Homo sapiens: one gene and its partners. The protein of the gene in region 6 purifies or fractionates together with the protein of the main gene of each other region. This does not show direct contact. Each region holds a gene or a part of one and is shown on either strand. Other genes may lie near its edges. The genes, in order: SH3BGRL, TIAL1, PGM2L1, JPT1, PINX1 and COTL1.

The links.
Region 1: the proteins of COTL1 (region 6) and SH3BGRL fractionate together in Homo sapiens (co-fractionation; one large-scale study listed by BioGRID). This does not show direct contact.
Region 2: the proteins of COTL1 (region 6) and TIAL1 fractionate together in Homo sapiens (co-fractionation; one large-scale study listed by BioGRID). This does not show direct contact.
Region 3: the proteins of COTL1 (region 6) and PGM2L1 fractionate together in Homo sapiens (co-fractionation; one large-scale study listed by BioGRID). This does not show direct contact.
Region 4: the proteins of COTL1 (region 6) and JPT1 fractionate together in Homo sapiens (co-fractionation; one large-scale study listed by BioGRID). This does not show direct contact.
Region 5: the proteins of COTL1 (region 6) and PINX1 purify together in Homo sapiens (co-immunoprecipitation; one large-scale study listed by IntAct). This does not show direct contact.

The regions. Positions count from the first base shown.
Region 1 is NC_000023.11:81,278,033-81,282,908, forward strand, and holds part of SH3BGRL (adapter SH3BGRL), read left to right. Parts: intron 1-298; coding exon 299-379; intron 380-4,876. UniProt on the Homo sapiens protein: Appears to function as an adapter protein that bridges proteins together or proteins with mRNAs. May function as a ubiquitin ligase-substrate adapter.
Region 2 is NC_000010.11:119,579,711-119,584,586, reverse strand, and holds part of TIAL1 (nucleolysin TIAR), read left to right. Parts: intron 1-1,978; coding exon of another isoform or gene 1,979-2,029; coding exon 2,030-2,128; intron 2,129-2,363; coding exon 2,364-2,418; intron 2,419-2,577; coding exon 2,578-2,665; intron 2,666-3,740; exon of another isoform or gene 3,741-4,114; coding exon of another isoform or gene 4,115-4,116; intron 4,117-4,576; coding exon 4,577-4,652; intron 4,653-4,876. UniProt on the Homo sapiens protein: RNA-binding protein involved in alternative pre-RNA splicing and in cytoplasmic stress granules formation. Shows a preference for uridine-rich RNAs.
Region 3 is NC_000011.10:74,394,857-74,400,432, reverse strand, and holds the start of PGM2L1 (glucose 1,6-bisphosphate synthase), read left to right. Parts: upstream 1-1,999; 5' UTR 2,000-2,271; coding exon 2,272-2,382; intron 2,383-5,576. UniProt on the Homo sapiens protein: Glucose 1,6-bisphosphate synthase using 1,3-bisphosphoglycerate as a phosphate donor and a series of 1-phosphate sugars, including glucose 1-phosphate, mannose 1-phosphate, ribose 1-phosphate and deoxyribose 1-phosphate, as acceptors.
Region 4 is NC_000017.11:75,151,111-75,156,468, forward strand, and holds the start of JPT1 (jupiter microtubule associated homolog 1), read right to left. Parts: upstream 3,403-5,358; 5' UTR 3,288-3,402; coding exon 3,232-3,287; intron 3,134-3,231; exon of another isoform or gene 1,795-3,133; intron 1-1,794. UniProt on the Homo sapiens protein: Modulates negatively AKT-mediated GSK3B signaling.
Region 5 is NC_000008.11:10,770,376-10,773,875, reverse strand, and holds part of PINX1 (PIN2/TERF1-interacting telomerase inhibitor 1), read left to right. Parts: intron 1-965; exon of another isoform or gene 966-3,360; intron 3,361-3,500. UniProt on the Homo sapiens protein: Microtubule-binding protein essential for faithful chromosome segregation. Mediates TRF1 and TERT accumulation in nucleolus and enhances TRF1 binding to telomeres. Inhibits telomerase activity. May inhibit cell proliferation and act as tumor suppressor.
Region 6 is NC_000016.10:84,615,279-84,619,461, reverse strand, and holds the start of COTL1 (coactosin-like protein), read left to right. Parts: upstream 1-1,383; 5' UTR 1,384-1,547; coding exon 1,548-1,624; intron 1,625-1,878; coding exon 1,879-1,961; intron 1,962-4,183. UniProt on the Homo sapiens protein: Binds to F-actin in a calcium-independent manner. Has no direct effect on actin depolymerization. Acts as a chaperone for ALOX5 (5LO), influencing both its stability and activity in leukotrienes synthesis.

The DNA of each region.
Region 1 (4,876 bases), on a different chromosome or scaffold from region 6:
GCTCACTGCAACCTCCGCCTCCCAGGCTCAAGCGATTCTCCTGCCGCAACCTTCCAAGTAGCGGGGATTACAGGCATGTGCCCCCACCCCTGGCTAATTTTTGTATTTTTAGTAGAGACAGGGTTTCTCCATGTTGGTCAGGCTGGTCTCAAACTCCCAACCTTAGGTGATCCGCCCACCTCGGCCTCCCAAAGTGTTGGGATTACAGGCGTGAGCCACTGCTTTCGGCTGAATAAATTTCCTTTTTTTCTTTTATTGGTTGCATATTGCTAATTCATCTTATCTTCTTTTCATCAAGGACTATGATGCCTTCTTTGAAGCCAGAGAAAATAATGCAGTGTATGCCTTCTTAGGCTTGACAGCCCCACCTGGTTCAAAGGTATGATACCCTTTTTTTCCTGTTTTATAGGTCATTTTATTGCTGCTGAACTTTTTTAATCAGTAAGATTTTCATTTTTGTTAAGTATTCAAATTAAGTCAGAGACAATCCTTTATAGCAAAAAGTGCCTTCTCTGCATCCACTTAATTCCTATTAGGGCAGAAAGATGTGCATAACCAAATGCATAAACTATGTGTTTAGCAGGTAGGTAGAGTGACTTCCCCATCAAGCTGCCCATGGGAGCAAATTTCTCATTGACCTATGCACAGATAAGTGCTTAGCAATTTTAAAGCCTTCATTATTCCAGCTGTCCTGCATGGTTCTACATCGACAGTAAGCATCTTAGTTCATGGTAATCTCCTTGGCAGCACTTATTGTCTTTGTGTGAGAGCAAATGATAGAGTCATCCATTCAAGTTAATTAAGAGCATCTGCATTGCAAAACTGGTCACTAAATTGCTCGCCAAATTTGAGGCTTTTTTCCTGCCAACACAAATTAATTTTTTAAGTAGCAGCATTTTCAGGAGAGACCAAATAAAGAAAGCAACAATAAAGTTGCCTGTCTAGTGAGATGTCCCCAAACTATCAACTTTAAACATACCTTTGCCTTTTATAGTAGTTCTTCACACAAACTGCCTTAATCAAAATGCGTGTCTCTTGCTCTGTCATTTTATGTTTTGCTCTTAGCAACTAATTGTATGTTAGACAGATTCTTTGAACTCCAATTCCCTCTCCTATTTTAAAAGGCTGTGTTATTGTCTGTTTTCACTAGACAAAAATTTACTAGTACTGTGTTCATGTCATTGTAAAATGGTTTTCTTGCCGAACTTTCTTTTCCCATGGATAAAATCTTATATTTTAGGCTTTGTACAATTTGAGCCATAAGAAAAGTGAGGTAAGGCACTTTTCTTTAAATAAGATAGAGTACTAGATTGCAGCATCTGCAATCCAGACAGAGCAGCATCTGGAGGCTTGCATTGTGCATTTTAGCCCCAAATAGACTGCAAGAACAAACCAGCAATCCTGAGAGGACCCACAGACCCTCTCAAGGAAGTGGACTGCTCATGTAGGACTCAGGAGACACCCCAAATACTGTGAGTGCCCCAACTGAGGAAGTGGAAAAGGGAGACCCTCCTCTCCCGAACAGATACCCTCACTGGAGAAACTGAAGGTCTGTTTGCGGGAGAAGTTTCCAACTTTACCTGGAGCTGAGTCAAGTTAGAGAGCCCAGCGAAATACAGGGGTAAAGGAAGCAACAGGAAGGCCCTGGTATCTCGCTGGGTCCCCAGGCAGCTCATTTCTGCCTGGCACCATAGGGATCCATCGGGAGGGTGGCCAGAGGAGCAGGGGTTAAAACTCCACAGAAAGAAGGAATTCTCTAGCCAAATTTTGTAACAATTCGAAAGGGGAAGAAGCCTCCTGGCCAGAACTCGGGGGAGGGTGCAAATCTCGCTTGCAGACTTCACAGGCAAGGGAAGAACCAAAACCCTTTTCTTTCGCAGCTGGGAGGTGGATAGCCTTGGGTGAATTTTTAAGCCCCTCTTGCCCTCCACCTGGAAACAGACTCAGGGCTGTTGGACGGGGGCTTGGTGGAAGTGAGACCAACCCTTCGGTTTACCTGGGAGCTGAGTGAGGCCTGTGACTGCTGATTTTACAGGACTTCCCTGACAATCTGCCTGACTCAGCAGAGGAAGCCATCCTAGGTATAGAACTCCAGTGACCTGGGAATCTCACCCCCACCCCTCACAGCAGCCACAGCAAGACCCACCCGAGGAGAGTCTGAGCTCAGACATGCCCAGCCCCTCCCCCACCTGATGGTCCTTCCCTTTCCACCCTGGTAGTGGAAGACAAAGAGCATATAATCTTGGAAGTTCTAGGGCCCTGCCTACTGCGGGTCCCTCTCCGCAATACTACAGCTGATGGTTTCTGGAAAGCGCCACCTCCTGGCCAACCAGCATAAAAATAGAGCATTAAACCACCAAAGCTTAGGACCCTCACGGAGTCCATTGCACCCTCCACCTCCTCCACCAGACCAGGCACTGGTATGCATGGCTGAGAGACCCATAGATGGTTCACATCGCAGGACTCTGTGCAGACAACCGCCAGTACCAACCAGGATCTGGGTAGACTCGCTGGGTAGCTAGACCCAGAAGAGAGACAACAATCACTGCAGTTTGGCTCACAGAAGCCACATCCATAGGAAAAGGGGGAGAGTACTACATCAAGGGAGCACCCCATGGGACAAAATAATCTGAACAACAGCCTTCAGCCTTAGACCTTCCCTCTGACAGAGCCTACCCAAGTGAGAAGGAACCAGAAAACCAACAGTGGTAATATGACAAAACAGTTCCCTTCAACATCTGCAAAAAAATCACACTAGCTCACCAGCAATGATCCAAATCAAGAAGAAATCCCTGATTTACCTGAAAAAGAATTCAGGGGGTTAGTTATTAAGCTAATCAGGGAGGGAACAGAGAAAGGCAAAGCCCAATGCAAGGAAATCCAAAAAATGATACGAGAAGTAAAGGGAGAAATATTCAATGAAATAGACAGTGTAAGGAAAAAAACAATAAAAAATTCAGGAAACTTTGGATGCACTTTTAGAAACACGAAATGCTTTGGAAAGTCTCAGCAATAGAATTGAACAAGTAGAAGAAAGAAATTAAGAGCTCAAAGACAAGGTCTTTGAATTAACCCAATCCAACAAAGACAAAGAAAAAAGAATAAGAAAATACGAACAAAGCCTCCAAGAAGTCTGAGATTATGTTAAACGACCAAACCTAAGAATAATTGGAGTTCCTGAGGAAGAAGAGAATTCTAAAATCTTGGAAAACATATTTGGGGGAATAATCAAGGAAAACTTCCCTGGCCTAGCTAGATATATATACATCCAAATACAAGAAGCACAAAGAACACCTGGGAAATCCATTCCAAAAAGATCTTCGCCTTAGGCACACTGTCATCAGGTTATCCAAAGTTAAGACAAAGGAAATAAGAGCTGTGAGACAGAAGCACTAGGTAACCTATAAAGGAAAACCTATCAGATTAACTGCAGATTTCTCAGCAAAAACCCTACAAGCTAGAAGGGATTAAGGCCCTATCTTCAGCCTCCTTAAACAAAATGATTATCAGCCAACAATTTTGTATCCAGTGAAATTAAGCATCATATATGAAGGAAAGATTCAGCTCTTTTCAGACAAACAAATGCTGAGAGAATTCGCCATTATCAAGCCACCACTACAGGAGCTCTAAATCTTGAAAGGAATCCTGGAAACACATCAAAACAGAACCTCTTTAAGGCATAAATCACACAGGACCTATAAAACAAAAATACAAGCTTGAAAGCAAAAGCAAAAAACAACAATGAAAAAATCTAGAGTACACAGGCAACAAAGAGCACAATGAATGCAATGGTACCTCACATTTCCATGCTATCATTGAATGTAAATGGCTTAAATGCTTCACTTGAAAGATACAGAACTGCAGAATGGATAAGAACTCGCCAACCAACTATCTGCTGCCTTCAGGAGACTCACCTAACACATAAGGAGGCACATAAAGTAAAGGGGTGGAAAAAGGTATTTCATGCATATGGACACCAAATGAGAGTGGGGCAACTATTCTTATAACAGACAAAACAAACTTTAAAGCAACAGTGGTAAAAGAGACAAAGAGGGACATTATATAATGGTGAAAGACCTTATCCAACAGGAAAATATCACAATCTTAAACATATATGCACCTAACACTGGAGCTTTCAAATTTATAAAACAATTACTAATAGACCCAAGAAATGAGATAGACAGCAACACAATAATAGTGGGGGAATTCAATATCCCACTGACAGCACTAGACAGGTCATCAACACAGAAAGTCAACAAAGAAACAATGGATTTAAACTCTACCTTGGAGCAAATGAACTTAACAGATATATACAGAACATTTTATCCAACTGCAGAATACACATTCTATTCAACAGCACATGGAACTTTCTCCAACATAGACCATATGATAGGCCATAAAATGAGCCTCAATAAATTTAAGAAAATTGATATTATATCAAGCACTTTCTGAGACCACAGTGGAATAAAACTGGAAATCAACTCCAAAAGGAACCTTCAAAACCATGGAAATACATGGAAAGTAAATAACCTGCTCCTGAATGAGCATTGGGTTAAAAACAAAATCAAGATGGAAATTAAAAAATTCTTTAAACTGAATGACAGTAATGACACAACCTATCAAAACCTCTGGGATACAGCAAAGGTGGTGCTAAGAGGAAAGTTTATGGCCCTAAACGCCTACATCAAAAAGTCTGAAAGAGCACAAACAATCTAAGGTCACACTTCAAAGAACTAAAGAAACAAGAACAAACCAAACCCAAACCCAGAAGAAGAAAGAAATAACCAAGATCAGAACATAACTAAATTAAATTGAAACAAAAAAATACAAAAGATAAAATGAAACAAAAAGCTGGTTCTTTGAAAAGATTAAAATG
Region 2 (4,876 bases), on a different chromosome or scaffold from region 6:
CCAAAGTGCTGGGATTACAGGTGTGAGCCACTGCACCCAGCCCATAATTGATTTTTAGGATGTCACTTGGTGGTGTAAATAAGAAGCTTCCAGAGGGTATAAACTCTAGCAGAGTATCTAGCAGCTATTTATTTTTCTTTCATAAATTTCATTTCAGTATGTGAAAAATCCTTTTTCCCCCATAGTTTTATGATTTTTTTTTTACTTTAGATGTTGTTATCATAGATTCTAGCTTTCCTTATATAATACAAATATATATTATTGATTCTAAGTCAAATTTTTTTAGAATTTTAATATCTGACAGTTGGGATGTGACTTAGAAATAAGTGGTGTCTTAAATTAGATGATATGCAGTGTGATGTGAATATATAAAATATGTGATGTCAGTGAATATATGTGTATATATACATGCACGTGCATACATTGATTGGGAGCTGGCCTACTATTAGATAGATTTGAAATTGGTATTCACGAGTAGACTAGTTTCCTAAAGTGTATGGGATTATCATAGATCTGCTGTTGGACCCCTGTATGTTTTGCTGTGATTATCAGTGTTTTCCTTAGAGACCATTGGGGCAAAAGAGATAGGAGTGAAAGGAAAACTCAACTAGCACAATTTTAGCCTCTTATTTATTTTGATGTCCTTTCTTCAATGAATATTTATGGTAAATGTAATAACTCTTTTACAAGAATTTAAATGTGTGTTTTCATTTGAAGTCTTCCCCCATTTCCTTTCTTTACCTCTTAAGAACAGCATTCACGTGGCTACAACAGTAGGATTTTGTATGAGAGCCCATAGTTTTGTTGTCAGTATTAACGATCCCACTTTTTTTCCCTCAAGGAAATGCCTTCTGGTTCCTTTGCCACTATTGTTTAGACGTCTTATTTTGGATTTTTCTTCTAAAACTTTCCTGGAATGAAAAACTGTTGTGGTTGAAAAGATCTTTATTTTATCTGGTATATTTATCCCTTGTAAGTCCAACTAGAATTCCACATTTTAAATATTATTCTTATAGGGCATTTTACATTGAATAATGATGAATGTTTTTAGCCTTACATAAAAATATGTATTTGTACAGTTGTGCAGCTATTCAGTACAGGTTGCAGTTTCATAGAAATTCATTTCTAGTTTGGTTGTCAGGTGAGAATGTTGCTATAGCTTAGGTAGTACTACTTTCTTCACATCTTTATAAATGTGTTTTAGGTAACTACTGTCAAGCACAGGGTTGCAGAATATATTTAATATAGATTTTTTATATGGTGTTCTTATGATGTAAACTTATAGCTTTGTCTTGGAATATTTTATTCAGATACATTTTCAGAACCTCTTTTCTTGATCACCACTGTTATTTCTCTGATCTTTGGAAGACCAAATTCAAAGTATATAGAATCTTCAGTACATTAGACTATTTTGGAAGGTAGGGAATTCATTTCAGTAGCTGGTTATAAAGCTTAAGTTTTCTTGTTTTTATTTTCATTCTTTCCATATCCAGAAAAGAAATCAATAAAATTCAGTCTTTGTAGCAGCATAGAATTCCATCATTTGTAGTATTGATCCTAATTTTGATCAGTAGTTTATGAAGTTGGTTCTTGCTGTATTTCTGTATCCTGGGATACCACTTATAGAGGATTATGATGCATAAGTAGAACGTAATTTAAAAATAATATTGGAGAAGGAAAGTAGTGGTAAGGAGTGGTCCTCATCAGATCTGAGTTTGAGGTTTTGTTTGGTTTAATATAATCTTCTATTTTATATTTAACACACTTCACCAGAATTCTTTATTTTCATTTAATACTGATGCTCATGATTCTACAACTGCTTTTATAGTTCCGTTTGAGTTCAGCAGTATTCTGAGGTGCAAAGTCAGGTTTAGCTTTAAATCTTATTTAAAAAGTGTTAGGCTTTCATAAGCTTATGCAGTCTCACCTTGTATATTCCCAGCTATCAGTAATGTTTTTTCCTGGATTTTCTTCTCAGCAACCCGATAGCAGAAGGGTCAACTCTTCTGTTGGATTTTCTGTTTTGCAGCATACAAGCAATGACCCATATTGCTTTGTGGAATTTTATGAACACAGAGATGCAGCTGCTGCATTAGCTGCTATGAATGGGAGAAAAATTTTGGGAAAGGTAAGATAATAGGATGATGGCACCTTATGAGTACATATATTTGCATGTCAAACTAGTTTGTATTCTTTCTAGGCAAATTTTTGAGCAGATATTCGGCTGCTGAGTGATGGTTTTGCTTTATTCAGCTTAGTGCTTTTACAAAAATAACCCTGCTTGATAAATGATTTAATAAGTGGTAAGTGTTGTAACTCATGACATGCCTAATAATTTTATTAAATATAATCTTTATTTTTAGGAGGTCAAAGTAAACTGGGCAACCACACCAAGTAGCCAGAAAAAAGATACTTCCAGTAAGTACTCCTGCTGCATTTTACTGTGGAAGAGTTCTGAAATTATCCAGGAGGCATTACCAGCTTAAATAGGTTTTTTTTTCCTCCTCTAGAGTTGCCTTAAAAAGGTTTTAGTGGCTGACTTCTTAAGTATTTGATTACCAAATGCTCTGATTTCAGATCACTTCCATGTGTTTGTTGGGGATTTGAGTCCAGAAATTACAACAGAAGATATCAAATCAGCATTTGCCCCCTTTGGTAAAATATCGTAAGTATCATAATCAGTACTACACTCAGTCATGATAGGCAGAATTGTATATGATTAACTTGTAATTGAATTAAGATTTTCTTTCTCTAGTTAGTATGGTTTTGTTTTGTTTCTTATTTTTCATTTATTTATTTTGGTTTGTTTTGAGTAGTGGATGTTGTTGAAAATGTTAATGTCATTTCAGTGTCTTGGGGTCTCGTTTTCATCTAATCCTGTGTATAATATGTTAAAAAAAATTTAAGTGATTCTGTTTGTTATCTTTGAAGCAGATGTTTGAATGGTAAAACTTATAAAGTCTAGCTTTTTGTCATATGTTTTCAAAATTTGATGGTTTAGGATAATGAGTTAATCAAAAGTAAATGTGATCTATACTGTGTAAGAGTTCAATAACTTTTATAGGAGGAATTTATAAATGGGGGAGAGTAGGTAAATCCTTGGATATATTGTGATTAAATTGGAAATGTTCATGTTTTATTATGATAAATGTGTTTTTGATATTTTAGCTATAAGTGAAAAGTACTATTATACTATTAAAATGTTTCAATGTATGAGTCATAAATGTGGGATTAATTAGATGTTTTTGTTAGTGATATTTGATTCTACTAGTTAAGAGGCAAATGTGGTTTGATTTTTAACAAATTTATGCTCAGATTTTACTGTTGTTACTTGGTAAAAAATATATTGGAAAACTAAAAATGGTTATGAATTGTAGAAAATGTTTATCATAATTTATCTTTCTGATTAAAATCAGTTTATTTTGTATATTTCCTGTAGATTTAAATTAAACATCTTAGTACTACTTTACAGGAAAGTGTTTCAACTAAGAACAACAATATTTTCTCTATACAATTTGTTGTTCTATAGATTTAATTTCTTTAAAAGATGTAATTCTTAACTTTCTGTTTTGATATTTGCTTTGCTTTTTAATCTAAATGTGGTAAGTAGTACTATTTTAAAAATCAATATAAAAATAATACAGGTTGCTGTTTTTCAATCTTTATTTATACCTGAGACCTGCAGTTTTTCTTAAGTCCAAGTCACAATTAAAAGTAATAGCATTCTGGTTATTTTGCAGAATTGCTCATAAGAATGGACAGGATCTTGAAGGCTAACTGCAAGGAACTGTGCACACTGGAACTCAGTTGTAGATTTTTTTTCTCATTTCTATTTATTCTTATTATACATTATTTATATATACATATTTTAGTATTTACATTTTAACATTCTATATTCAGTGGAGTTCTATATTTCCAATCATTTAACTTACTCACTAAAATTTCTGTGTAAATTTGTTGTTTTCGTACTGGTGTGCTTAGCATTGTTGTTAGTTTTTTATTCTCCTTTCTTAAATTTCTGAAAATGTCAATTTTTCAAAATTTACAGCTGCCCAAACTCCAAAATGATGGTAGAGAATTGACCAAGAAAAATAAAGAAATCTGTTAACAGGCCATGTATGCCTTTTTAATTCCTATTTTTTCCTCTTTTTCAATTTTTTAATATTTCATATATTTTGTATCACTAGGCAGAAGACATTTAACTATTTAGAGATTGCATGGTAAAGTAGTTAGTATTGTTACAGTAATTTATAGAATCAGTAAACCTTAGAGGACACTAGTAAATAGAATATTAGAAAGGGAAACTGTTGTTCCTATTAATCTTCAAATTTGAGCATTTAGTTTAGAAAGCACAGGCTATTTGATTAGGTTGCATGTTTATTACATGTTTTTGTCCTACTGCTTTTTTCTAACAGGTAAAGAAGCATTAGGGAGAGTTCAGGAATGGTTGTAGTTAATTAGGGCTAACTGGAATTTTATTTTAAAAATGCTCACAATACAGTGTGTGTGGTTCCTTTTAGTTTTTATTTTGAGGGTGGCTCTTACTTCCCTCATTTAGCTGTGCTTCTTTTCACAGGGATGCCCGGGTAGTTAAAGACATGGCAACTGGAAAATCCAAAGGCTATGGTTTTGTATCTTTTTATAACAAACTGGTACGTTCTTCCATCTCAATTTATATTTTTTAATACTAAATTTAGTCATTAGTTACTTAATGTATTGAATCTGAAACTTGAATATACTTGAATGTTAACTACAAACACAACTTTTATGTAATGTTATGTATGTTTTAATAATAGAGTATAATTTCATTCCTCTTTCATAAACTCGAAAATAAATAGCTAGAAAAAGAATGATTATACTATAAGGAAGATTATTA
Region 3 (5,576 bases), on a different chromosome or scaffold from region 6:
CAGGTACCTAGGCCCTATGCCAATGTATTGATTCAGAATCTCTGGAGGCAGTGTCCAGGAATATTAATTTAAACAAACTCCTAGGGAGATATGAGAACCACTGATCTATGGGTTTGAAATATCCTCTATCTTATTCTCAACTTGTTTATTTTGTTTCTGAAAGCCCAGTGCAGGTCCCTCCTGCTTGATGCTTTTTTCATTGACCACCTCAGATGTAAATTCATTAACAGTTGTTGGCAGCACTTGCTATTTATCATGGGCTTTCTTTTCTTACATATATCCTGTCTCCTCAGATGTTACTTCTCGAAGTGAACAATTATATAGATTCTTGTAGCCTCAGCTCCTACCATAATGCTTAGCAGAGAGTAAATGTTTAATATGTATCATGGATAATAATGGTGATGGTAGTGGAAGATGAATTTCTCTCCAGGACACGTGACTGTTGCCCAGGCCTTGTGTGATTAAAAGAACAAGAGTCCTGCTGACTCCACAAAAGAAACAATCGTTAGCAAAAACTGCAACTCCCAACTATGGCACGTTTTTCAGAAACTGGTACCACAATCCTTTTGTACCTTGGTAGTTTGAATTTTATTATGGTAAATGGCACTTTAAAGGAAATAAAGTAATACTTTGAACTTAATATGTCTTTTATCTGTGAACCTCAAAGCAGCCTAATGCCATTTATTAAGTTACTGTACAGCCATGATGTAAATATTATCATACCTTCCTTACAAAAAAGCTGACTAGGGAAAGAGTTGTAATGTACTTGCCCAAAATCATAGCCATTCTAAGAAGGCCAAACCAAGAAACGGAGGAGTAGCTAGGTGGCTGACAGGTCAGCACTTCTCAGCATTTCCCAGACCTCAACTTAGGTGAGCTTTCCATAGGAGAGACGGCTAAGAAGTAACGGAAGACTATTTCAATTTGGGTGAACCAATTTCCTTTTCCTCCGTATTCCCATTACCATTGCTCTTGGTATCTTGTGATGCTTATACATTCTTATATTTAGGTTAAATGCCGACCATCTTCCCTCAACAACTTCCTTATCTATTTTCCAGTAATCTTGTTCTCCCTACCTCCTAGTTTACTATAGCAGCAGAGATATTAGATTGGTACAAAAGTCATTGCCGTTTTTGCCATTACTTTTAATGCCATTATTTTTAATGGCAAAAACAGCAATTACTTTTGCACCGACCTAATAAAATAACTGCCAGCTGAGGGGATCTGAAATGAGATTGGAACCCTAGTTTGACCGCTCACGAACTCGGCCTCTTAGGAGAGGTGTCTCAGGGAGTCAGTTTCTTCTTTGTGTGTGAAACGGAAAAGGACTACGCCCCTGTACCTTACTGAGGGATTGAGGCGATAGAACGCGATTCGTAAACTGCACAGCACTAAACGGATACCACTTTGTCCCCTTACTATGTCATTCCTTGTTTAATTTAATGCCAGGGCCACACAGCGCAGCATAACTAATAGGGATAGGGCGTGTCTGTAGGGAACTACCTCGAGGTAGATCTTTTTCTTTTGAGGAAAGGGGGAACGCGGAGCTGCTGGGAGTCGTAGTCTCGGCGGCGGTCTCCGCTGAGCTCAGACAAAGGAAAGAACTACAACTCCCGTGAGGCAGTGCGCGGACAGCTCGCACTGCCCCTCCTCCCCCAACCGGCGCGTGCCCCCAAGAGAAACTGGGGGCCTGCGCGCGCGCTGGGGACCTGCAGGGCAAGCGCAAAGGCAGCTTGCTAGTGGTAGCCGTGAGAGCAGATCGAGGAAAGGAGACCCTTGGCAAATTAAAAAATAAAAAGAACCGTGCACTATTGCCTCACCACCCGGACGGGCTGTAAACCCCCACTACTTCGGAGGCGTGGGGAGCGCGCTCCCGGGCTCCAGTCTAGAACTTCGGGGACTTAAATCAGCAAGGGCGGGAAGGGGCGGGGCCTAAGGCGCGGGGCGGGGCCGTAGGCGGGGCGGGCGGCGGCGGCGGCGGCGGAGCCAGGACCCAGACATCTGGGACTGTTGTTCTCTCGCGGCGCGACCGCCTCAGTCACTTCGCCCAGAGACCCGGACCTGGTCCGCTGGGGAGCAGGCGGCCATAAACCCCCTCTCTCCCGGTTCCCTGACGCCGCGGCAGGAGCTGTTACGAACACCCTGCGGTTGGTCTCCGATGCCCTTCAGTGAGGTGGGGACGCCTGGACCCTGGTGAGCGAACCCCAAGCCACCCCCCACCCCAACTCAGTGTCTTCGCCGGCCCCCGGCCCGTACGCCTGTCTGGTCGCCATGGCTGAAAACACAGAGGGGGATCTGAACTCCAACCTGCTCCACGCCCCCTACCACACCGGGGACCCTCAGCTGGACACGGCCATCGGGCAGTGGCTCCGCTGGGATAAGGTGGGTACCTGGTCAGCCCGGCAAACGCCGTCGCCTCCCCCACACAGTCTGCTCTTTCCTGTGCCCACCCAGCGCCCCGCGGGCTGCAGAGGAGATGGCTCGGGACACCGAGCGGGGGGCAGCGGAGCAGGGCGTTGCCACCCACCTATGCGTGGGGTTGCTCCTTCGGACTGCCAGAGCCGGGCGGCAACATCTGCATCGCTTCCTTCTGCAGTGCTCTCAATTGTAACCTCCCTTCCTCTTCTTTACCCTCTTTCCTTTCAAGTGCTGTCTTCCCTCTTTCTTCAAAAAAAAAAAAAAAAAAATCATCATCATTGTAAGTTATACCCTAAACAACGATTTCCTTTCCCTTTTTCTCCCTTGACTTCCTTCTCCACATACCTGAAAGTGGTTTCTGGCACCCTTACTGGGCGTTTCTAACCGCTATCCGCTTTAGTTCTGGTCTGGTGTGTTTCCTCCTTCTGTCGCTAGGTAGTTGCTGGCCTTTTATCACTCCCTGGTATTGTCTAGTATCACCTTTTGCTGTTGGGAAAGGCAAGGCGCTTACCTCTTCTTTCTCCTGCTGGCAGCTATTTTCTGGAATTAATCTGTTCAAGGAATCGTGTTTTCCAGGTTTCATGTGGTACTCTTAATACAGGATTGTTTTTGCCTTAACCATTACTTCTCTACCAACACCTCCCCACCCACCCTCCGCCCCCACCTCCAAGTTGTGGTGGTAATTAAACCTCGTGCGGGCATTTGGGATGAATTTGTGACAATCAGAATTAAAATGCAGCTATCTTACTTGTAAAAGAGGTCCCTGGTAGCTCCAACAGAGGAAGATAATCCAAGCTTTTGCTTTGTCAAGTGCGTAAAATACCTTTGTTGAAGTAGAGAAGGCAGCACATTTAAAATGGAATTAATGACACTGAATTAAGGAATTTGTATGGTAGTATGTGACATTATGTTGTACAAATGAATTTCCTTAAGGCTTCACTTTCTGAAAGTTTTGTTTTTACTTTATTCATTCATTCATTCAGCAAAAAAATATTGAATGCTGAGTGCGTGTTTTAGGTCTTGTTAGACCCAGGAAATACTTGTGAGGAAAATAGAAAGGGTTCCTGCCCTCAACAAGCCTCAGTTAGCAGATGAGGAAGACCAACAAATAAGCAACTACAATGAGGTATTTGGTGTTAATTGGTCATATGTATATTGGACGAATAATTCTTCCTCTACAGTCTAAACTAATGCTTCTCAAACCTTAATGTGCTTATAGATCACCTGGGGATCTTGAAATACAAATTCTGATTCAGGAGGCCTGGGGTGGGGCCTTGGATTCTGCCTAAGAATGAATTTCCGGCCGGGCGCCGTGGCTCAGGCCTGTAATTCCAGCACTTTGGGAGGCCGAGGCGGGTGGATCACGAGGTCAGGAGATCGAGACCATCCTGGCTAACATGGTGAAACCCCGTCTCTACTAAAAATACAAAAAATTAGCCGGGCGCGGTGGCGGGCGCCTGTAGCCCCAGCTATTCGGGAGGCTGAGGCAGGAGAATGGCTTGAACCCGGGAGGCGGAGCTTGCAGTGAGCGGAGATCGCGCCACTGCACTCCAGCCTGGGCGACAGAGCGAGACTCCGTCTCAAAAAAAGAAAAGAAAAGAAAAAAAAAGAATGAATTTTCAGGTGATACTAATGCTGCTGGTCTGTGGACCACACTTGGAGTAGCAAGACTTTTTGTTCTCTTTAGGTGCCAGTTTTAACTGTACTTTTCCTAATGAGTCTCCTGATTGATTTTTTTTTTTTTTTTTAAACAGGGTCTCACCGTGTTGTCCAGGCTGGAGTGCAGTGGCGCGATCTCCGCTCACTGCACTCACTGCAGCCTTGAACTCCTGGGCTCAAGTGATCTTTCTGCCTTAGCCTGCCGAGTAGCTGGGACTACAGGCACATGCCACCACGCCCGGCTAATTAAAAAAAATTTTTTTTTTTTTAGAAATGGGGTCTCACTATGTTGCCCAGGCTTGTCTTGAACTCTGGGCCTCAAGGGATTCTCCCACCTCAGCCTCCCAAAGTGTTGGGATTATAGGCATGAACCACCACACCCGGCCCCTGAATTATTTTTAAAAGATTGTTTGAATGAATTTATATTTATTGATTGTCCATTCTATGCCTATACATTGTTGGGATATACTGAAATATTAAAGAAACCTGTAAAATGCACATAAAATAATAATGCTAGGGTAGTTTTGGTGGCAATTAAATGGTTTGTAGGCAGTCAGTTCTTGCAGTTCAAAAGTAGGAGTAAACGGTGGACTGAGATGCTCAAGGAAGACTTCATTAGAAGATAGGATACATAAAAAGAATGAAGAGAGGTCAGGCACGGTGGCTCACGCTTGTAATGCTAGCACCCTGGGAGGCCAAGGTGGGCAGATCACCTGAGGTCAGGAGTTCGAGACCAGCCTGGCCAACATAGTGAAACCCCGTCCCTACTAAAAATACAAAAAAAAAAAAAAAAAAAAAAAAAAAAAGCCAGGCGAGGTGTCACGTGCCTGTAGTCCCAGCTACTCAAAGGCTGAGGCCAGAGAATCACTTGAACTTGGGAGGCGGAGGTTGCAGTGAGCTGAGATCGTTCCACTGCACTCCAGCCTGGATGACAGAGTGAGACTCCATCTCAAAAATAAATAAAACAAAATAAAAATAATGAAGATAAAACTTCATTGAAAGTGGAAGATAAATTCTTAATTTGTATTTAAAGTGCCTCTGAATATAAGGCATTAGCTGAAACCTGTGAGAGATAGAAAGATGAAATAGATATGGATCATATCTTTAAAGAAAATAGAAGGGAAGGAAAAGCATAAATAATAGGGGCAAGTAATAAGTATCCTTAACAGAGGAATAGATTAAGTAATTTGTTAATTATTTAATAAATATAATAAATTTCTTCATTGATCCTCTCTTAATAGGAGAGAATACATTTAATGGAGAAATTGTATCTACTGTAGATTGATACTATAGGTAAGCTAGACTGTCTCAGGGCACTGAAATTTAGAGTGCAGAAATGTAAAATAAGATCAGACTCATGGCATTTCTTACATTATATATTGATGGCATATGTAGTCTTTTAACAGAGAAACTGATTTTAACACCTGATGAATACCTATTTAATTAAAAAAGGAACCAAATGCCACCAATTCTTCATGACTCAGATGAGGCATATAATA
Region 4 (5,358 bases), on a different chromosome or scaffold from region 6:
CAAAGTGCTGGGATTACAGGCGTGAGCCACCGCGCCCGGCCAAGAAACATTTTTCTAAGAATATTTAGCACTTCTATCTGGGCGTGGTGATGTGAACCTGTAATCCCAGCTACTCCGGAGGCTGAGGTAGGAGAATCGCTTGAACCCTGTAGGAGGCGGAGCCTACAGTAAGCTAAGATCACACCACTGCACTCTAGCCTGGGCAAAAGAGTGAGACTCCGTCTCAAAATAATAATGATAATAATAATAATAATAATAAAATTAAGGTCAGGAGCGGTGGCTCATGCCTGTAATCCTAGCACTTTGAGAAGCCAAGGCAGGCAGATCACAAGGTCAAGAGATCAAGACCATCCTGGCCAACATGGTGAAACTGTCTGTACTACAAATGTACAAAAATTAGCTGGGCGTGGTGGCACATGCCTGTAGTCCCGACTATTCAGGAGGCTGAGGCAGAGGCAGAAGAATCGCTTGAACCCGGGAGGCAGAGGTTGCAGTGAGCCAGAGATCATGCCACTGCACTCCAGCCTGGCAACACAGTGAGACTGTCTCAAAAAAATAAATTAATTAAAAAAAATAAGGCAGGGCGCAGTGGCTCACGCCTGTAATCCCAGCACTTTGGGAGGCCGAGGCGGGCGGATCACCTGAGGTCAGGAGTTCGAGACCAGCTGGACCAACATAGAGAAAACCCGTCTCTACTAAAAATATAAAATTAGCCAGGCGTTTTGGCACATGCCTGTAATCTCGGCTAGTCGGGAGGCTGAGGCAGGAGAATCGCTTGAACCTGGAAAGCAGAGGTTGCGGTGAGCAGAGATTGTGCCACTGCACTCCAGCTCGGGCAAAAAGAGCAAAACTGCGTCTCAAAAAAAAAAAAAAAATCAAGAAAAAGACACTAGTACCCGAACACCAGCTTAAGAGCAAGTCAAAACTCTAACCAGTCCCACTTTTTAAAGGTCTCTGTTCCTCCTGCAATAGCAGGTAGTAACCAACTCGGATGACGTCAGTGTTGTAGAGACCATTTGTAATAGTGAGATATCCCCAAACAAAGGATGTAGATCATAAGGCAGAAAGTATCTCAATGTTTTAGGATCCTACTATTCTTTCAGAATCATACACGACAACTAAATCAGGATTATATATTTAAGACTGAACAAAAATGTGTCCATGTACTGTAAATAGCAATTTTTAAAAAATTGCTCCTTTTCTTTCTTCTCTCTTAAAATCCTGAAGTTTCTGTATATCTTTGCAGATCATTCCCTACCAGACTAAATTTATAACGAGTTTATGGGGCCAGGAGAACATTACTGGACAAAATTAAGTTTATGAGAATTAGGTGAGAATATAGAAAAAGGGAAGGTAGAGAGACAATAAAATGACAATGCTACTACAGTCCCTAGAGCATAATATTGGAGGGAAATTGATGACGAAAGGTGAATTAAACATTCATTTCACAGGATCAGAACTCATTTGTCTCACATTTCAAATGTACACATGAAAAACTAAGTGTGAGGATTCATTTGACCTAATTACTGAAATTCTTTACAAAACACTAATATCAACTCAACCCCAAAGAATAAAACCCCAGATTACACATTATCATTCCGACGACTGAAGTCTAACCGGCAGAAAGTTGGCCTCGTAACACAAAATGAAAAACCAAGGCTCAATCTCTTCCTGTTCTCTGAAGAAATCATCTCATTGGAAAGAAAACAGAAAGGGAGCGACCAGTTTCCTAGGTCTGTGCTACTTAAGTACCCCATCCTCCCAGTAATCACCAATTTATTTTTTTAATCTTACCTAGTCTTTTTGACCTTGTAAACCTGAAAGTATTGAGTTGTAAAGGAATGTCATTTCCCATGCTTTCCTCCTAAGGCTCAATTGCTGAGTGAGGCGTGCTTTTTGTTCCCAAGTTCTCTAACCCCTGTGAGATATGGCTATTTCACGTGTCTTCTTAGCCCCACAAAATGGCTCCCTTTGTGCCACTTGGCCAGGACCCCGAGGGTAGCCACACATGAATGCAGGTCATAATCGATGTAAAATACATGCTCAAAAAAGTGATTTAAGCTTCTTCCAAGCCTTGAAGAGGATCCCAGACATAACTGTAACCCACCTTAAAGAACAGTGTGCAATTAGCTGAGACAATGTGGACACCTTCCACAGAATCCAAACCCTTCCACCAAGTAAGTTAAGCAAGGACTTGGAAAAGGGTTCCTGTCCAAACACTGTACCCAGTGCCCCAAGCCCAAAAAGCAGTGGGAAGAAGGGCAAGAAAAATCCCCCGCTTCCCAGGTAGCGCTACCACGTTAGAGACAATGGATGTCTCCGGCCCCGCCCAAGAACAAGAAACCTCCTCCTGCAAGGGAACCAGGGCCAGGGATGAACTCACTGGGCAAACGTCAAAGGAGGAAGCGAAGGTAGGATGCAAAGGCCACGGTCCGAAGGTTTAAGCGCAGAAAACCCACTCGGGTTGGCTCGTTCCCCGCGCCCGCCCCCGCCCCCCGCCTTAGAAATGAGCGCAGGGATGGGGAGAAGGGGTCTTTCCTTTGTTAGGAAGGGGAGACACTTGGAAGAGGGGAGGCACTTCGAAGAGGGGAAGAACGATTGGGTCCTCAATGGGGGGTGAAGGGTCGCGATGACCAGCCCCGCTCGACCACACATGCACCTGTCAGGTAGGTCCGAATAAGGAGTGGGGGCACGGCGAGGGTAAGGAGCCCGCCGGACCTGATCGATCCGGTCTCCGGATCCAATGGCTGCGCGCGAGAGCGAGACCAACCGCATGCCACGGGGGAGAGACAGGAGCGCGTGGCCCATCAATGGGACAATAGGACCTGACCATGCATGGGGCCCTAAAGGATCCCCGGGCACCTGGGGGGCCAAGCCCACCACCCTGGGGATGCACCAGCCGGGATGCACACAGGAGAAAGCGAAGCCCTCCCCGAAGGTTCCGATTAACGAAAACCGGCCGTGCTCCGAGGGGCGACCAGCCCCGGCCTCCTCAGCCCCTGACTCCGTGGAAGGAATGAATGGAGAGCAGCAGGGACCCGGGTGGGGCCGGCGCGCAGGGCTCGCCAGGCGGCACAAAGGCGGCGCCGACGGCAGAACCCCGCCACCCGCCCCGGCGCGAGCACAGCGCACGGGGCTCGTTACCCGCAACGACCGGCGCGAGGCCCCGCCGGCAGCGGCCCTCCCAGCCCCTCAGCCCCGCGCGGCTCGGGCGCGACCCGGTCGCCTCACCGGGAGCTATTCCTGCTGTTGGGGTCGACTCCCTTGAAGGTGGTGGTTGTGGTCATGGCGCCGAGGAGCGAGGTAGGCTGGCGCCGGAGCAGAACGCTCAAAGGGTCGGACCCGAGGGGCGCTGGGAAACTCCACACCCAACAGCCGACCACCGCTGCAGGAGCCGCCGCTGCCGCCTGTCCGGCCGATCGACGCCTTTATAGGGTTTTCAACCCCCGCCCCCTAACCCGCCGGCATTGGCCGATTCAAATGAATTCTTTCATTCCTATTGGCTCTCTGGAGTGCCAAGCACCATGCGGCATTACGATGGGCTGTGGCGGCCACGGCTCAGCCTAAGCCCGCCCCCTTCCTGGACTGGGAAGGCCTTGGGACTCTCTCCCCTCCCCCACCCCAAAATCTCGGCGATGATTGGACGGAAGGCGAATCTACCTCGCGCTGGGTGGAAGTCGTGCTGGCTGTCACTGTAAAACGTTACCTGACAGAGGGGGAAGCTCTTTCTTGGGGAGTTACAACCTCGGCAAGCAGAAGGGAGATTTGTCACTGTTACTGTTCTCTCATTTGCTTTACTGATGGTGGGATAGTAAGGGCATCCTCCTTAAAGGATGAAAAGTACTGCAACAAGTTGACATTTATCTGTTGAATACCTACTGTGTGTCCCATTTAGAAACCTAATAGTCTCAAAGCAGCCGCACAATGAGTCAGCAACAGAGAGCGCACCAAGATGATCCCTTTTAAAAGGACTGGAAATTCCTTACATTTTAATGTTACTGTTTAGTTGTAATGGGTGGTGCATGTACTGGACCAAAATTACAGTCGCTCCTATTTGGGGGCCTATTCTAAGGCTGGTTAATGCCTGGCACCAGGAATGGACTCATTCCCTGCTACCAAGACTATGGAAGCAGCTCAGGCCTCTGCAGCTGTTTATAACCCTTAAGTCATGACTCTTCCACCTGTCTGGGTAAATCTATCCATGCGACAAATGCAGACACACTTGGAGGATTCAGGAATGATGGTTTACAAGATCATAATAGGAAAGCCTTGGGCAAAAGAGGGCAGGCCCTTCTCATGTCTTGCATATTTCCTCAAGGCAGATGTCTTTGCTTGTCTCAATATTTCCATAATAATTGAACCACATTCCTCTTTGCAAAGCCACCTTTCAGGTAGTTGGAAGTTTGTATTCTGGGCAGTCTAGGTTAACCACCCTCCCCCCCCGGGCTTTCATGAAAAGCCAGTGAGAAGTTCTGTTCTAGAAAGCACGGATGATGCATTTATGTGCTTACCACAACAGCACGAAGCGCACCACTTGTTTGTGTTAGAATCTTCCCTTCTTTTTTTCCTTTCTTTTTTTTTTTTGTTTTTGAAGTGGAGTTTCGCTCTTGTCACCCAGGCTAGAGTGCAATGGCGCTCAATGCAACCTCCACCTCCCAGGTTCAAGCGATTCTCCTGCCTCAGCCTCCGTAATAGCTGGAACTACAGGCGTGCGCCACCACCCCTGACTAATTTTTGTATTTTTAGTAGAGACGGCGTTTCACCATATTGGCCAGGCTGGTCTCAAACTCCTGACCTCAGGTGATCCATGCTCCTTGGCCTCCCAAAGTGCTGGGATTACAGGTGTAAGCCACCGCATCTAGCCAAAATCTTAGCTTTTTTTTTTTTTTTTTGAGACAGAGTCTTGCTCTGTCGCCCAGGCTGGAGTGCAGTGGTGGCGCGATCTCTGCTCACTTGCAGCCTCCACCTCCCGGGTTCAAGCGATTCTCCTGCCTCAGCCTCCCGAGTAGCTAGGACTACAGGTGCGTGCCATCATGCCCGGCTAATTTTTTGTAGTTTATTAGTAGAGATGGAGTTTCACCATGTTAGCCAGCATGGTCTCAATCTCCTGACCTCGTGATCCACCCACCTTGGCTTCCCAAAGTGCTGGGATTACAGGTGTGAACCACCGCACGCCCAGCCAATCTTCCCATTCTTTCTTTTTTTGTTGTTGTTGTTTTCGTTTTTTTGAGACAGAGTCTCGCTCTGTCGCCCAGGCTGGAGTGCGGTGGCATAATCTCGGTTCACTGCAAGCTCCGCCTCCCGGGTTCACGCCATTCTCCTGCCTCAGCCTCCCAAGTAGCTGGGACTACAGGCGCC
Region 5 (3,500 bases), on a different chromosome or scaffold from region 6:
TTCCGAGCCTGAGGGCCTTTCAGGGAGGCAGGAAGCCTGCTCCTCTTTCTCTTTCCTCTTTTTCCACAGAGGCTGGATGACTCTTGTCAGTGATCCTGATGTTGATTACTTGAGAAGCTGTTGCCATAGAGAACCATCCTTTTAAAACATGTTTATGTCGGCTTTTCCTAATAAGTGGCAATCGGAATAGCTGGTTAGGCATATGGGAAAAAATAAAAATAAAAAGACATAAAATTAACAGCTCTGTTACCATTGGCCTTCATATGAGGAATTTGGCATTCTGTGTATTTCTCTACTAAAGTCCAGCCAAGCTATTCTGTCCCTTCTAGTTCGTATTATCTTCTCCAATGTCCGGTGTGTCTGAGTTTGTAACTTCCAAGCGGAGTTCTGATGCCTGATATTAGAAAGGTATCTCTGCATACTTACTGGGTTGCTGAGAGTGCTCTTTGATGTCACATCACTTTTTAAACAAATTTTTTCTTTACTGGCTTTTGCTACTCAAAAGCAGGCAGCAGTTAGCAGCCTCTCTGCTGCTTGCTGACACAGTTCAGAAAGGTAGGCATTCTGTCGTTGGCAGGAGACAGAGCTTGAGGACTTTGTCAAAGCCCAGCGTCCTCCAGTTCCATACGTGTATATATGTACATGTGTGTATATAAAGGTATATTGTGTGTGTGCACTGGAAAAGCACCTGCCACTTCCAAAAGTCAGCCGTATTGTATTCACAGTCACAGAGCCGATTTTATAATACATTTATTCAGTAAATATTTACTTAGCACCTATTGTATGTACTTGTATAATGAGAAAGAAAACAAATTTTTACAAGATTTTTACTGAGGAAATTCAAAACTTTAAGGACACTGGTATTTGAAATTCATGTAATTTTTACATGTCATAAAATAGTTTTTTGTTTCCTCCTAACCATTTAGAAATGGTAAAAAAAAAAAAAAATCATTAAAAACTAGGCCCACGGCCATAGTTCACCAGTCTCTGTTCTAGAGAGAACCCTCTGGAACCCCTGCAGAGTGGGCTTCTAATACATGCCACAGGTTCTTACACCTGTTTCACATGTGCACGCACACACAATTTCTGTGTTTTCCAATTGAGTTGCTGCATAATTCTCATTCTGTTATTGTATCTTTGCTTTTTAATACCACTTCAAATCACAACTCTCTTCAGTCAATGGGGTTTTATATTTGTTTTTGACTCTTGTGATACTTGCTAATGCTAAAACTGATTGTGTCTCCCAGGCAAATTCCCCGAGGCTGCTCATTGCCGAGACTTGGTGCGTTTAGCCTAATTCCAGATGTGAGCGATGAATGTCTTGAAAAATGTACAAGATTTCACACTTGAAAAGCTTTTTGTGAGTGTAAAAATAGCTGTTCATCAATAAAACACTGGGTGTTTTCAGTTACATGGAAACCACGAAGGAAAAGCATGAAACCACAGAGGTTCCATAGAGAGAAGAGCAGGGCCGCCCGCCATAGTGGCTCAGGGCAGGCTTTCCAACGAACGGCCGTGAATCACTGCCTAGCTCAGCCTTCAGTGGCAAACCCATTTCAATGACTCCCTAGAATCAGCTTGCCCAGGTTGTTTTCAGCTAAGATATAATGTAGGCTGTGCCTTCACAGCTTGCTACCAGAGGCTGCTGGTGGAACTTCCATCCCACTGCTGTTCTCCAAATGAGCTGCTTACCTTTGTATGTGGTATGCACGAGAACTCTCTTCTCTTTACCAAGAACAGTTCTCTTCTTTAGCAAGAACAGTTCAGTCTCTACTGGCATTGCTTGTGTTCAACTAATCCCACAAAAAGAACGTGGCAGTTCCCATACCACACAGTACCTTGCTTTTTTCCAATTGACTTGTCCCCTCCAAGGCAACTGTGGTAACATGTGGAATGACAGAGCAGAAGGAGAAATGGATGGATCACTGGACTGAGTTTCTATTTATTGCTAAGGGCCAGGAAGGAACTGGCTGACAGCAGACGACACTCAGATGTACTCTGCAGTAGTTAGAGAAGCAGTTTGCATCACGAGGCAAGGGAAGGTGCTATCTGATGAGAAGGGGGTGGTTTCATGTGGATGGGAGGAATCTGCACTCAAAATGCTGATTCTCTTCTTACCCTCCCACACCCCTTCTGGACATTAGACCTGCCTGATGTGCAGACAAGTTCGTACTGACAAACACAAAGCATTTGGGGCCAGTGGGTGGTGGTGGGAGCTCTTCACAGCCTTGGTCCAGCTGGGTTTGGTGTCTTTGTGCCTTTGTTGAGCACTTACTGTACCTTGTTCCTCATTAGGGAGGTTGTGGATTGTATGAATACAAATGCAACATAAATGGCCCCTGTCCTCAAGAAACTTGTTTCCTTGGGAAGATGCTAGCAAAGCAAATTAAACAAATACAGAAAATAGAAGCAACAAGTTGCTATTATGGGGAATAAACAAGAAAGGATGTTCACTTGGGATTGGACTTGTGGAAGGAAGCAGTCACACACTTGATCTTCAAGAAAGTGATGCACGGGACTGTGTACAGGGGATGTGGAAGAACATCGTAGGCCAGCATAGGGAGTGACTGGGTCAGTTCATCCTGCCCCTTCTGTTGGAGGAGTTTAAAGTACACACACAGCTGACGGTGGGGTCTCCACAATCCCTTTGTTTTGAGGAGTCACACACAGTCACTTCATACCTGAAGGGATACATGAAGACATAATTTGTGTTTGTCAGAACTGCCCCACTGAAAAGTTTGGAAAAGGTACAGAATGTTCTGTCAAACCACTCACTTGCCAAGCTTTCTTAACTTTTCACAGACTAACCCAGCACAGGCTGATGACAGACAGGCTGTGGTGGCAGTGAGCATTTGTTCATCACAGGCAATAGCCATCAGGGCTCACAACCCCAGTTGCTAAATACATTACCCTTGATCTCTGGGAGTCTACTTTGTTAACAAAGTTCATTGAAGGATTACTGTTGCAGCATGACCTCCGTGTCTTAATGTGGAAATAAGAAAGCTTCCATCATCCTGTCACTTAAGATCAGTAGTGATGTATGAGCAAGGCTGGCGAGCTGAAAGACTTGCCTTTGAAGCCCATTTCCTGGACTGGCATGTTGATCATAAGTAGGGGGATTCTGTAGTAAGGTGCATCTGCTTCTGGCACTTCACTAAGGTCTCTGTGCAAACTGCTTCATTTCCTTGCCCCAAAAGATTCTTTTGAGAATAATGGAGAATCCTCTCTATTTGGGCATTGTACTAATAATCCATCTCAGTATACATGTTTGAATGACACAAGAGCAAAGTCCTCCATGAGCCCAGAGGATCTTGCGCAGATACTCACTCATGTAGCTGCAGAGTCTCCAGATGGAGGATCCTAAAAGAAGCAGAACAGACTTTAATTCTGTAGACATCCGAGAAGAGTTGATACATGTAGCTTCAGGCATCTTTCAGGGACCGGAGAGGACTGTGGTGTATTGTAATTGATACCCGCAGGGACTCTCTGCAGGGTCAGCT
Region 6 (4,183 bases):
CATTCAATTTCTCGTTTTTGTTTTTTTGCTTGTTGAGAATTCTAACATTAATTGGACATTGTCCCTGACCTTTTGGGTTTCTATTTAGGATTTGTTTTTATCACTTAATAACCAACAATGATGACATTTTATCGAATGTCTAGTATATTTGTTCCAAGTATCATTTCAATTACACTTAAAACAAAGCAGTGATGTCAGTTATACTATTTTTCCCATTTGAGGAGTCATTTAAAAGAGGTTTTGAGGCTTTCCAATGGCCCCCAGTTGGAAAGTGGCAGTACTGGATGCAATTCAAGAGCCCAGTCTTCAGGATCCTGCCTTTTTACCTACCTGGACGCTGTAACTGGTCTCTGTGGAATGGCTGGATGAGGGAATGAATGAATGAGTCAGTGAAGGAATGAGGAAGACAGAATGAGTCAGCTCGTGCTTTCAGAGGAGCCCAAAGGGAGAGGTTAAGATAGGAATGCAAATGACCAGAATCCAGAGTAAACGCGAGCCCACCAGCGTTTTGGAAGCAGTCCACTTTCTACCCCCTCCTATTTAAAATGCTTCATTCTTTCCAGTTCCTCCCCACCTAGAATCCATGGAACCAAACGCTGGGGTAGGGACAGTGGCCAGCCTGTCTCCTTGGGTTTGACGCATTACATCATCCACGTGGAGGTCCCCTGTGGAGCTCTGCAGCCCTGCAGCCTCAGGGGCAGGGGGGTGGGGAGAATGAGGAAGGGGGAGAGGGGGAATAGGAGGAGGGAGTAGGGGACAGGGAGGGAGGAGATGCCAGGAGGGTAAGTGGAGAAGAGGGAGGCGAAGCCGGGGGCAGCAGGGGAGGGGGTCAAGGAGGAGGAAAGAGGAGAGCTTGGGGAGAAGGAAATAGGGAGGATGGAGAAGTTTTGGGCTGGGATAGGCAAGAAGAGGGAGGAGGAGAGAGGAAGAAGAATAAAGGGGGAAGGGAGAAAGAGGGGGAGGGAAGGGAGGGGGAAGAGGTCAGGGAAGTGGGGGAAGCAAGCAGTGGGGGAAGAAGAGGAAGGAGGAGGGAGAGGAGGAAGGCGGGGTGGGAAAGGGGGTTGGGGTAGTGGGAGTTTCCAGGGAGGGGTCGGGAGGGGAGGAGGGGAAGTGAGAAGGAGAAGGAGAGAGAAGAGGGATGTTGGGGGAGAAGAGAGCGGGAGGGAGGAGGGAGAGTGAGAGGGAGGAGGCAAAGCCCCTACTCCAGCCCCCACCGCGGAGTTGCGCAAGCCTTCCGGTCTGGGATTGGCCGCCAGAGAATCAAGACGCTCCGCCCCCGCAGCCCGACGGCCAATGAAGAGGCGGGCCGCCGCCTGGGCGGCCAATGGGCGCGGGGGGGCGGGGCGGGCCACGGCCTGGGGTCCCCGCGCGCTCTCCGTCCGCAGTGGAAGCCGCCGCCGCGCTCGCAGCTTGCAGGCGCCGCGTAGCCGTCGCCACCGCCGCCAGCCCGTGCGCCCTCGGCGCGTACCCGCCGCGCTCCCATCCCCGCCGCCGGCCAGGGGCGCGCTCGGCCGCCCCGGACAGTGTCCCGCTGCGGCTCCGCGGCGATGGCCACCAAGATCGACAAAGAGGCTTGCCGGGCGGCGTACAACCTGGTGCGCGACGACGGCTCGGCCGTCATCTGGTAGGAACTTTTCATTCGTCTCCACGCCCCGCTCCCCGGGCTCGCGCGGGGCCTCGTGCACCGAGCCGGCCTCCAGGCGGGACGGATTCGGGCCTCCCGCGCTGTCTTCCTCGCCTTATTCCGGGACGGCGTGCCAGGCCCCCGCGGGCTTCTCCGTGGCCAGCGCGTCTGTTAGATTGTCCTCTGCAAGCGCCGCGTCGCGCGGCCACCAGCGCTGATGTGTGTGTGTGTTTTTTTCTTCTCCCAACCCAAAGGGTGACTTTTAAATATGACGGCTCCACCATCGTCCCCGGCGAGCAGGGAGCGGAGTACCAGCACTTCATCCAGCAGTGCACAGGTAGGGAGGCGCGCCTGCCGGGCGGATGCGCGGTCGTTGGGAGGTTGTCTGCACCCGGGGAGCCCCGGCCAGAGCGAACCCGGGAGGAACCGGTGGCCACATGGGGTGCCCCTGGCGCATGGCGTGGGAGGAACCCGGTGTGAGCGTTTTAAGGCCTCATAAAACCTTCTCCCCTCTGGACATCCGAAGCAACAGAAGTGACCCACCTGCCTCCGCCATCCTACAATGCCTTCTCCAGGCGGGGCAGCTCTTTTGCCCCCTGCGGTCCACTGGTTTTCTAAGGTCAACTCCTGTGTTTCCAAACTCCAGTGTCCATCCAGCTCTTCCCACTGTCCCCTTTGATCAGTCACTGAGCCCAAATACGAACAGGCTAGGGGGCTGCTTGGAAGGGAAAGAAACTCAGCCGCGCCCTCCTTTCTCCCGCTATCATTGTCTGCCCGTGTGCTGATTTTATGTGATTTTTAATTTGACGAGTAGAATCAGATGCAAAAGAGTACACACCATATGATTCCATTTAGAAATCCTAGACAAGGCGAAACTAATCTATGGTGTGAATGTCAGAATCGAGATTAGCTTTTGGGGCTAGATAGCCACTGATGGGGAGGGGCACACCACCCGGACTGCTGGGAGCTGAAAATGTCTCTGTAGACATTTGTTGATCTGGGAGGGGGTTATGCAGGTGTGTACCCGCGTGAAAAATCATCAGACTGTATACTTAAGATTTGTGTGCCTTAGGCACTTCCCTGTGGCTTGTGAACCATGAAAAGAAAGACCACGTGGCAGGCATCGCCATAAACCCTTCGGTAGTGGCAGAGGCTCTGTGATGTTGGTAATGGGACCTTTTAAAGAGATTGGAGAATGCGACTCCCTCCCATCTCTGGTCTTTAGTTGGAAGCAAGCTTTCGGACAACGGCAGCACAGCCCGGAGGTTACGGCGTGGACCCTGAGCCAGACGGTGTGGGTTACTTATTTATTTATTTATTTATTTATTTATTTTTGAGACAGAATCTTCCTCTTTTGCCCAGGCTGGAGTGCAGTGGTACAATCTCAGCTAACTGCAACCTCCGTCTCCCGGGTTCAAGAGATTCTCCTGCCTCAGCCTCCTGAGTAGCTGGGATTACAGGCGCCCACGACCACGCCTGGCTAATTTTTTGTAATTTTAGTAGAGATGGGGTTTTCACCATTTTGGCCAGGCTGGTCTCTAACTTCTGACCTTAGGTGATCTGCCCACCTTGGCCTCTCAAAGTGCTGGGATTACAGGCGTGAGCCACTGCGCCCGGCCGACGGTGTGGGTTCGAATCCCTGAACGGCTGCTTCCTGGCTGTGTGGTTTGGAACGAGTTCCTTAATCTCTGGGGGTCTTGGTTTCCTCACCTGCACTCTCACAGTGCTGTTGCGAGGATAAGTGAGTCAGTATGTATAAAATGCTCAGAACAGTGCCTGTACAAGCTACATGATTGTTTGCGAAATAAATAAAAAGTACAAAATTGTGCCAGGGATCATGTGGGTGTTTCTTTCCTTAACTGCTTCCATAATCAAATTATATTTTGCATTTAGTTCAATTCAAAGGGTATTTGTGGTGTGACTACTAGAGGATGGGTGATACTGAGAACCCGCGTGCGCGCACACACACACACACACACACACAAAACTAAAATTACTCCTTGAGCGCTGCCTGTAGACATTCATTCATTGCTTTTGTAAACAGTTGGCCTAAAATCGCAGCATAAAGCACTGCAACGATGTGGAGAGTTGGCAGGGCAGGATTTGAACCCAGGCCTCCGTCCCTCCGCCTCTGTAGTTGAATGCTTTTGCAAGTGGAGTAAGTGCAAACTCTTAACTTTCTCCCCTCCGGTCCGTGAACAGCCAGGAGAGTCAGCAGTATTTCTGCTTTGCCGGCTCTGAGGCTATGCTTTACAGACCAGCTTCCCTCCCTAAATTCAGCTTCTTTCCTCCCGCTGGTCACCCATCCCTCCCTTCCCCCATCAAACCATGTTCTGCCTCTGAAGCTACTGTTCTCTCCAGCAAGTAGAAGGGGATGAGGAAAAGAGCATCCATCCCATCAGGAGGCTCCTGGCAGGTGCTCCCAGGCCTCAGCCCACTCTGGTGTAGTGGGAGAACACTTCCCTCCTCCCACAGGCTTGTGGTTTTCTGCTCAGACCCACCTCCTGCCCCCCAGGGATGGGAGTGGGGAGTGGCGCGTGTCTGGCGAGGAAGCTAAAA